Linked DNA regions of Homo sapiens: all the other regions are linked to region 1. The links come from fine-mapping of genetic effects on gene expression. A gene starts in region 1. Each other region holds a variant in brackets. All regions are shown on one strand. Distances are between the middles of the regions.

Region 1 (2,757 bases):
ATCAGGACGCACATCAATAGCTGCATCAGTTTGAATGTATTCCACATTGGTTTGGGGGAGTCCCAGGTCTCTGGCTGGACGCTGAGCAGAGCTAACAATGCCGGATGTGATCGTGTTCTGCAGTGCAAAGGGACTTCCCATGGCAACAACAAACTCCCCTTGCCGGACATCAGCTGAGCGTCCCAGAGGCAGCGTGGGGAGAGGCTCCTAAGGGAGAATGGGTAAAAGAGACCTGTCATCTGAAGATGCGAGCAAATAAGCAGCTCCAACCAGACCTGGCCTACCCCAGCCCCCACCTTAGTCTGAATCCTCAGCGTTGCGATGTCTGCCACGGGATCCACAGCTGTGACCACGGCCTCATACGTGTCGCCGCTTAGCAGTCTCACACGGACTCTGCGCCGATCAGCCACCACATGGGCGTTGGTGACAATGAGCCCATCGGCAGCCACCACGAATCCTGAGCCGTTCGAGATAGGGACCTCGCGGCCCAAGAAAGGGTGCCTGAAATGGAGGGAAAGCACAGATAAGAGGAGGCTCTGACCCCTCCTACCCGCCCGCCCTCCAGCCTGTGGCTTCAGTGCCTCCCGGTCTACCCCCACCATTACCGGTCCAGGATCTCGATATAGACCACGGCAGGTGCTGTCTTCTCCACCACATCTGCGATGAAGTTGTACTGACTCCGGGGAGAAGCGGGCGGCGGGCTAGGGACGGCGGCGAGGACGGCCGGAGGACCCCGACCCCCGCCCCACAACAACAACAGCACTGCCCCCCCAGCGCCCAGCGCCACCGCCAGCCACGCGCGCGAACGGGTTCCAGAGTTCTCTGAGGCCTCCCGGGTCCTGGTATCTGGGGTCACCGCAGTCAGTTGTGCCCGGGGACCCGGGGTCCCAGACGTCAGGCATGCTCGGGGTTCAGTGACCCCAACAGACAACCGGGCCCAGAGACTGGGGGTCCCATAAGTCACTCGGGCCCGGGGGTCAGAAGTTCCTGACGTCAGCAGGGCCCGGAGGTCAGGGGTCAAACGGGGTCTCCTCCCCCAGCGAATGCCCCCCAAAGCCCGCCATGCCCGAAGGCTCCAGCCTGCACCCCGCCCCGCCCTCGGCGCAGCCATCAGCTCCGCCTTGGCTGCCTCCTCGCCCGCCCTACTCAGAGGCGGCACCCAGGACGCGAGCAGGCGGACAGTAGGACGCGGGGCACGCCGGTACCTGAAGTCCTTCAGAAGTGCACGCCGGGACCAGGATTCCGGGAGGCCGACTCCTCCCTGCCCCACGAATGCCGGGAATTGTGGTCTCCGCCGGACGCGAGTTGTGAGACGGCCCAAGGGGCCGCGGGGTATGCTGGGACCGCTAGCCCTTCCGGCGCGCCTCAGGACTTCGGGTCCCCTCACCCCGGGCGGATGCCCAAAGACTCCGCCTTCCCAAGAGCCCCTGCGGCCGGGCGCGAAAATGGCGGCGGCGGCGACGGCCGGGCGCTCCTGAAGCAGCAGTTATGGAGCTTCCCTCAGGGCCGGGGCCGGAGCGGCTCTTTGACTCGCACCGGTAAGAGACCCGGCGGGAAGAGACCGATCCCCGCGTGCTCTCGGCCTTCGGCGCCTGACCACTTCGCCTCTCGCCCCCAGGCTTCCGGGTGACTGCTTCCTACTGCTCGTGCTGCTGCTCTACGCGCCAGTCGGGTTCTGCCTCCTCGTCCTGCGCCTCTTTCTCGGGATCCACGTCTTCCTGGTCAGCTGCGCGCTGCCAGACAGCGTCCTTCGCAGGTTCCGACGCGGGCGTTCGGGGAGTGTCAGAGCTGGGTCTGGCCCGAGGCCACACAGTCACCACCTCCTGTGTCCCCAGATTCGTAGTGCGGACCATGTGTGCGGTGCTAGGGCTCGTGGCCCGGCAGGAGGACTCCGGACTCCGGGATCACAGTGTCAGGGTCCTCATTTCCAACCATGTGACACCTTTCGACCACAACATAGTCAATTTGCTTACCACCTGTAGCACCGTGAGTGAGAGCGAGGCCGAGAGCGCCACGGGGCGGTTCCCTGGGGCCCAGCTGAAGGCCCCCCTGTCCCCACTCGCGTTCCCCATGGAGGATACTGAGCCTTACCCCTAACCCCGATCCTCTACCCAACATGTCAGTTTTTTTTTTCATTTTCCTCAATATTTTTCTTCTTGCTTTCTCTTCTCCTGGTTCCCAGCCTCTACTCAATAGTCCCCCCAGCTTTGTGTGCTGGTCTCGGGGCTTCATGGAGATGAATGGGCGGGGGGAGTTGGTGGAGTCACTCAAGAGATTCTGTGCTTCCACGAGGCTTCCCCCCACTCCTCTGCTGCTATTCCCTGAGGAAGAGGCCACCAATGGCCGGGAGGGGCTCCTGCGCTTCAGGTGGGTTTAGCACAGGTATGGGGCGCCAGCTGGGTAGGTGGTCAAGCTTGTGGGCCCTTGAGTTTTTACAACTTTCTTCGGCCCTTAGACCCCATCATCTCCAGTTCATTTCCTTTCTGTCCACTTTAAGTTCTTTCTCCTGAATCCCTTCATTCTTCAATTATGTGCTTGTAGAGTTTGACAGTTGCCTGTTATAAGGCAGGTGTGAGCTGCTGACTAGGCTGGCTGGATTCCCATCCTACTTTCTCCTTCCTCTTCTAGTTCCTGGCCATTTTCTATCCAAGATGTGGTACAACCTCTTACCCTGCAAGTTCAGAGACCCCTGGTCTCTGTGGTGAGTGTGTGTTGAACAGGGAATCTCTGGGGCTTGAAGGGGAAATTTCCCATCCC
Region 2 (2,757 bases), 100 kb before region 1:
CCAAGTGCCCATCAGTGATAGGCTGGATTAAAAAAAAATGTGGTACATACACACCATGGAATACTATGCAGCCATAAAAAGGAATGAGATCATGTCCTTTGCAGGGACATGGAGGAAGCTGGAAGCCATCATACTCAGCAAACTAACACAGGAACAGAAAACCAAAGACGGCATGTTCTCACTCATAAGTGGGAGCTGAACAATGAGAACACATGGACACAGTGAGGGGAACAACACACACTGGGGCCCGTTGAGGAGGCGGGAGGAGGGAGAGCATCAGGACCAATAGCTAATGCATGTGGGGCTTAATACCTAGGTGATGGGTTGATAGGTACAGCAAACCACCATGGCACACGTTTACCTATGTAACAAACCTGCACGTTCTGCACATGTATCCCAGAACCTAAAATAAAATAAAAATTTTTTTAAGGTGCATTGAAGATATTTAGCATAGAAAGCTTGTTGGAAGGGGAGCCTATTAAAAATATATCAGTTTTGAATACCTATATACCAGCCTGGTGAGGTGGCTCATGCCTATAATTCCAGCACTTTGGGAGACCAAGGAAGGAGGATCACATAAGCCCAGGAGTTCAAGACCAGCCTGGGCAACATAGTGAGACCTCACCTCTACAAAAAAGTTTTTTAAAAGACATGGTGGTACATAGCTGTAGTCTCAGCTACTCAGGAGGATAAGGCAGGAGGATCACCTGAGCCCCAGAGGTTGAAGTTGCAGTAAGTCATGATTATGCCACTGCACTCCAGCCTAGGCAACAGAGCAAGGCCTTGTCTTAAAAAAAAAAAAAAAAAAGTTGTGAATCTCTTATCCAAAATACTTTAGACCAGAAGTGTTTCAGACTTTGGATTTTTTTGAATTTTGGAATATTTGCATGTACATAATGACTTAGGGATGGGACCCAAGTCCAAACATGAAATTCACTGGTTTCGTATATACCTTATATACACCATCTGAAGGTAATTTTATACATTTTTTTTTTTTGAGACAGAATCTTGCTCTGCCGCCCGGGCTAGAGTGCAGTGGCATGTTCTCAGCTCACTGCAATCTCCACCTCCCAGGTTCAAGCGATTCTCCTGCCTCAGTCTCCCGAGTTTCTGGGATTACAGGTGCCCGCCACCGCACCCAGCTAATTTTTGTATTTTCTGGTAGAGATGGGGTTTCACCATCTTGGCCAGGCTGGTCTCAAACTCCTGACCTCATGATCCACCCACTTGGGCCTCCCAAAGTGCTGGGATTACAGGCATGAGCCACCGCGCCCAGCCTATACAACATTTTTAAAATAATTTTGTTCATGAAACAAAGTTTTGACTGCAACCCATCACATGAGGTCAGATGTGCGGTTTTCCACTTATGGCCTCATGTTGGCCCTCAAAAAGTTTTGGATTTTGGAACATTTCAGATTCAGACTTTTAGATTAGGGATGGTTTACCTGTATTGGCAATATAATCCAGTGTCACATTAAAAGAATTATATGCCAAAAATTGAAATATGCTTTAATATTAGAAAATCTATTAATATAATTTACTATGTTAACCTATCTAAGGAGAAGCAACATCTTATGATCATGTTCATCTCTGTAACTTCTGAAAAAGCATTTGATAAAATTCAACATCCAATTTTGTTT[T/C]GTAAAAACTCTAATAAAACAGAAACAGATAGCTATTCTTTAGCATAATACATTTCTTTTTCAATTCAAGAGTTAGTATTGTTCTTAATGGAAAAACACTAAAGACATTCCCGTGCAAGATAAGGAAGTTTAGTATCATCACCATTATTTGAAAGTATTCTGGGCCATGAAGCAGCAGGATAGTAATGATGACACTGCAGATGTTTCACTAATTGATGCAGAAGAGGAGACAACTAATAGACCAAAAAAATCCAAAAATCAGATATTCAGTGGTATCGTTTTCCACTTATTCTTTCAAGTCAGTGCAATCATTGTCTATCTTCTCTGTGAGTTACTCAGCAGCAGCTTTATTGCCTGTATGATGACGATTATCTTGTTGTTGTCATGTGACTTTTGGGCAGCAAAGAATATCACAGGTAGACTAATGGTTGGCCTATGTTGGTGGAGTCACATTGATGAAGATGGAAAGAACCATTGGGTGTTTGAATCTAGAAAGTCTTCCTCTCAAGATAATAAAACTGTGTCAGAAGCTGAATCAAGAATCTTTTGATTGGGACTTACAGTCTGTGCAGTGCTTTGGGTGATATTTGCCTTTAGTGCCTTGTTCTCCTTCAGAGTAAACTGGTTAGCAGTGGTTATCATGGGTATGGTGTTAGCAGATGCCAACCTATATGGTTACATCAGGTGTAAGGTAAGCAGCAGAAATAATTTAACCAACATGGCTACCTCGTATCTTGTAAAGCAGTTTTTAAGACGAAACACTGGAGATGATCGGAGAAGCTTCCTGAATAGAGAAAGCTTATGTGCTTTGTTACATTGGGGAACAACTGAACAGATTCTTGACTCTGAACCTTTTGGAGCTTATTTGATGTCTCAATGAGGAGGATTGGCTTTGTTTTTCCACTTAAAAACTATTTATAAAAAGGAAAAGTAGTTTTCGTATTGTTTTTATTTCCTTTCCAGCAGTTGGGAATGGAAAGTATGTTGGCAGTAGAAACATTGTCAAGATTTGTTCTGTAGTGTATGTACATGTTCCATAGGTATGCGCATGGTCATGTAATATCAATATATCCCAAATTAATGAAAGAGTTTATTTATATATATAAAATGGAGACCT
Region 3 (2,757 bases), 41 kb after region 1:
CTGTCACTCTGTCCAGTTGATTTCCCTTCATCATCCAAGTGGCCCAGGAGGTAATCTGTCAGGAGGGAGAAAGAGACAGGAAAGAAAGGACATGAGAGCGGGGTGCATCTGAGGGTCAGCCCTCCCAGGGTACCAGCCTCGATCCCTGGGCCCGGTCCCTGCACTCCCCACCATGGTGCCACAGCTGCAGCCGCCCGCTGCTCCCATCCACATGGATCCGGTGCAGGCCCTGGGGATCACTCTCCACAAGCCGTCGAAGAAAATCCACTATGTCCTGGGAGGGGAGGGGAGGGGAGGGGAGGCTGGTGTTGGGGGCAGTTCCTGGAGAGAGCAAGGGCTTCGCTGGCTTGATCTCTCCACCATGGCAGCCACCAACCAGCTATCCAGCCCAGAGACTCTCACTGGCTCTGACCTCTCCCTCCTCAGCACCGCAAAATCTGCTGCCCCCAGCTATTGTAGTGAATCACCTCCCCTCGCTGCTTTCCTGCCTTCCCAAGGGTTGAGTATGGTATTCAACCTGGCCTCCTCTACCATCCAGGATCTTCTCTCCTCAACCTGAGTTAGCCACACTGAGGCCCCTGGAATGAAGCCCTCCCACCTGCTCTTCCAGCTAGGCCCCCTGTCATATCTGCAGTATGAACAGCTCCACATAACCCACCCTGAGGCTAGCTCACACCTAAACAAGTACAGCAGCTCCTGGCTGGCCGCTCCTCTGCACCTCATCTGTTTCTCCACAAAACTAAGCTCTAAGAAATTACTTCCCTACTCAGGGACATCCAATAATCCCCCACTGCCAAGGCCATAGGCAGAGTTGAACCTAATTCCTCAGCCTACGATTCAGAGCCTTCCAAAAGGCTCCCAGGCTGACCTTTCCAGCCCTCCTTTTAATCCTCCCCTGCTTCACTGCTGTCCTCCCTCCCACCACCAGGCTCCCTCCAGCCTTGGGGCCTTCCCCCAGCTGCTCTCCAATCCCTCCTAACTCTTGAGCTTCTTTCTCACATCTTGCCTCACCTTCAAGGTCCAGTTCAAATTCTATCTCCCTTCAAAGCCTTCCCAGACCCTTTCATCTCCAATTATCTCTGCCTCCTCCAACTAACCTGCAACCACATTATCTGTGTTACACAATTTAGAAACTTGTTATTGATTGCTTTCTATTGCTCTCCTCATTGGCCAGGCAGCATGGAATTCCAAAGGGCATTGTGCTGGAGTGGAGCCACTTGCATCTGAGGTTATTTTTTCTTTTGAGGTGGATTCTTGCTCTGTCACCCAGGCTGGAGTGCAGTGGTATGATCTCAACTCACTGCAACCTCTGCCTCCCGTGTTCAAGCGATTCTCCTGCCTCACCCTCCCAAGTAGCTGGGATTACAGGCACACGCCACAATACCATTTGTATTTTTAGTAGAGAGGC[G/A]GTTTCACCATGTTGGCCAAGTTGTCTTGAACTCTTGACCTCAAGTGATCCACCCGCCTCAGCCTCCCAAAGTGCTGGGATTGCAGGTGTGAGCCCCTGTGCCCGGCCGACTATTTTTTGTTTGTTTCTGAGACAGGGTCTTGCTGTGTTGCCCAGGCTAGACCCAAACACCTAGGCTCAAGCGATCCTCCTGCCTGAGCCTCCTGAGTAGATGGGACTTCAGGTTTGCACCATCATGTCCAGCTTGTCCAAATTTTCACTCTGACACTACCTGCCTGTTTGATTCTGGAGAAGTCATTTAACTTCTTTGGACCTCTCCCTCATTCACAAAATAAGGCAAGACTCTTTAAGGCCTGGCCCACACATTCTGTGGTCCTGATGGGAGTCATTTCCTCAGGGAGTATAAGCTTCAAAGACAGGAATGATCACATTCCTATTTGCCTAATCAGGCCTAAACAGAGCAGGACTGACTGAGACGCTTAGAAGCCAATGATCTTTTGGACTTATTGAGTTAGAAGCCACAAACTTAGAAACTCCAGCGTGCTAAAAAAAAATCTGTAGGCAGGACTTCAGATGACTAAGGTATATTCAATTTTCTAAACAATTTTAGATCCAAGGCTTCCCTCAGAAGATAGTCCTGGCTTAACAGCATCTCCAATACTGCTAGGCACTTTCATCAGTCTTATACTTAAAATTCAATTTCCTGGTGGGTTTGTGTCACCTTCCTAACTGCAACATAAGCATAAATAATGAGCCAGGTGTGGTGCGGACGCCTATAGTCCCAGCTACTCGGGAGGCTGAAATCGAAGGACTGTTTGAGCCCAGGAGTTCAAGGCTGCAGTGAACTATGATCATGCCACTGCACTGAAGCCTGGGTAACAGAGGGAGACCCTGTCTCGATAAATAAATATGGCTGGGCATGGTGGCTCACGCCTGTAATCCCAGCACTTTGGGAGGCCAAGACGGGTGGGTCACTTGAGGCCAAGAGTTTTAGACCAGCCTGGCCAACATGGCGAAACCCCATCTATACTAAAGATACAAAAATTAGCTGGGCATGGTGGCACATGCCTGTAGTCCCAGCTACTCAGGAGGCTGAGGCACGAGAATTGCTCGAACTTGGGAGGCAGATGTTGCAGTAGCCAAGATCACACCACTGCACACCAGCCTGGGTGACAGAGTGAGACTCTGTCTCATAAAAATAAATAAATTAATTAATTAATAATAAATAAATAAAGCATGCTCTCTGCCCCATGTCAGGCAGCCTCCTCAGGATGTGCCACTCAAATATATACTGTATTTCTTCTCTCTTCCTCCTCAAACCAGTGTAGTCATCATTAAAAATAAAAAAT

Direction of the effects. Alleles are on the strand shown, and positions count from the first base shown. SD is a standard deviation of normalised expression in the study named. Not every link is listed here.
With allele C in place of T in region 2, the expression in whole blood of the gene that starts at base 1,185 in region 1 is lower (moderate effect, 0.48 SD a copy in GTEx).

Evidence for each region. PIP is the estimated chance that this variant, and not a neighbour inherited with it, causes the effect. A credible set is the group of variants that fine-mapping cannot tell apart.
Region 2: its variant is the best candidate, but not a certain one, in a credible set for the expression of HTRA2 in whole blood (GTEx, PIP 0.52).
Region 3: its variant is the best candidate, but not a certain one, in a credible set for the expression of HTRA2 in whole blood (TOPMed, PIP 0.51).

The regions. Positions count from the first base shown.
Region 1 is chr2:74,528,361-74,531,117 of GRCh38, reverse strand. HTRA2 (HtrA serine peptidase 2) reads right to left here and starts at 1,185. Exons shown (of 8, transcript NM_013247.5): 1 at 606-1,185; 2 at 297-501; 3 at 13-207. The coding sequence starts at 1,111. It overlaps AUP1 (AUP1 lipid droplet regulating VLDL assembly factor), which reads left to right and starts at 1,412. Exons shown (of 12, transcript NM_181575.5): 1 at 1,412-1,538; 2 at 1,619-1,756; 3 at 1,836-1,986; 4 at 2,183-2,367; 5 at 2,629-2,701. The coding sequence starts at 1,489. RefSeq lists enhancers at 79-288, 299-378, 409-478, 499-628, 1,084-1,966 and 1 more and a silencer at 1,019-1,108.
Region 2 is chr2:74,627,992-74,630,748 of GRCh38, reverse strand. All of the region lies in intron 2 of M1AP (meiosis 1 associated protein), which reads left to right. It also overlaps the pseudogene TVP23BP2. Among named protein-coding and RNA genes, the nearest start is that of M1AP, 19 kb to the left of the region's middle. The variant T/C (reference allele first, on the strand shown) is at 1,641.
Region 3 is chr2:74,487,542-74,490,298 of GRCh38, reverse strand. It overlaps TTC31 (tetratricopeptide repeat domain 31), which reads right to left. Exons shown (of 13, transcript NM_022492.6): 3 at 172-274; 4 at 1-55. Among named protein-coding and RNA genes, the nearest start is that of TTC31, 5.8 kb to the right of the region's middle. The variant G/A (reference allele first, on the strand shown) is at 1,409.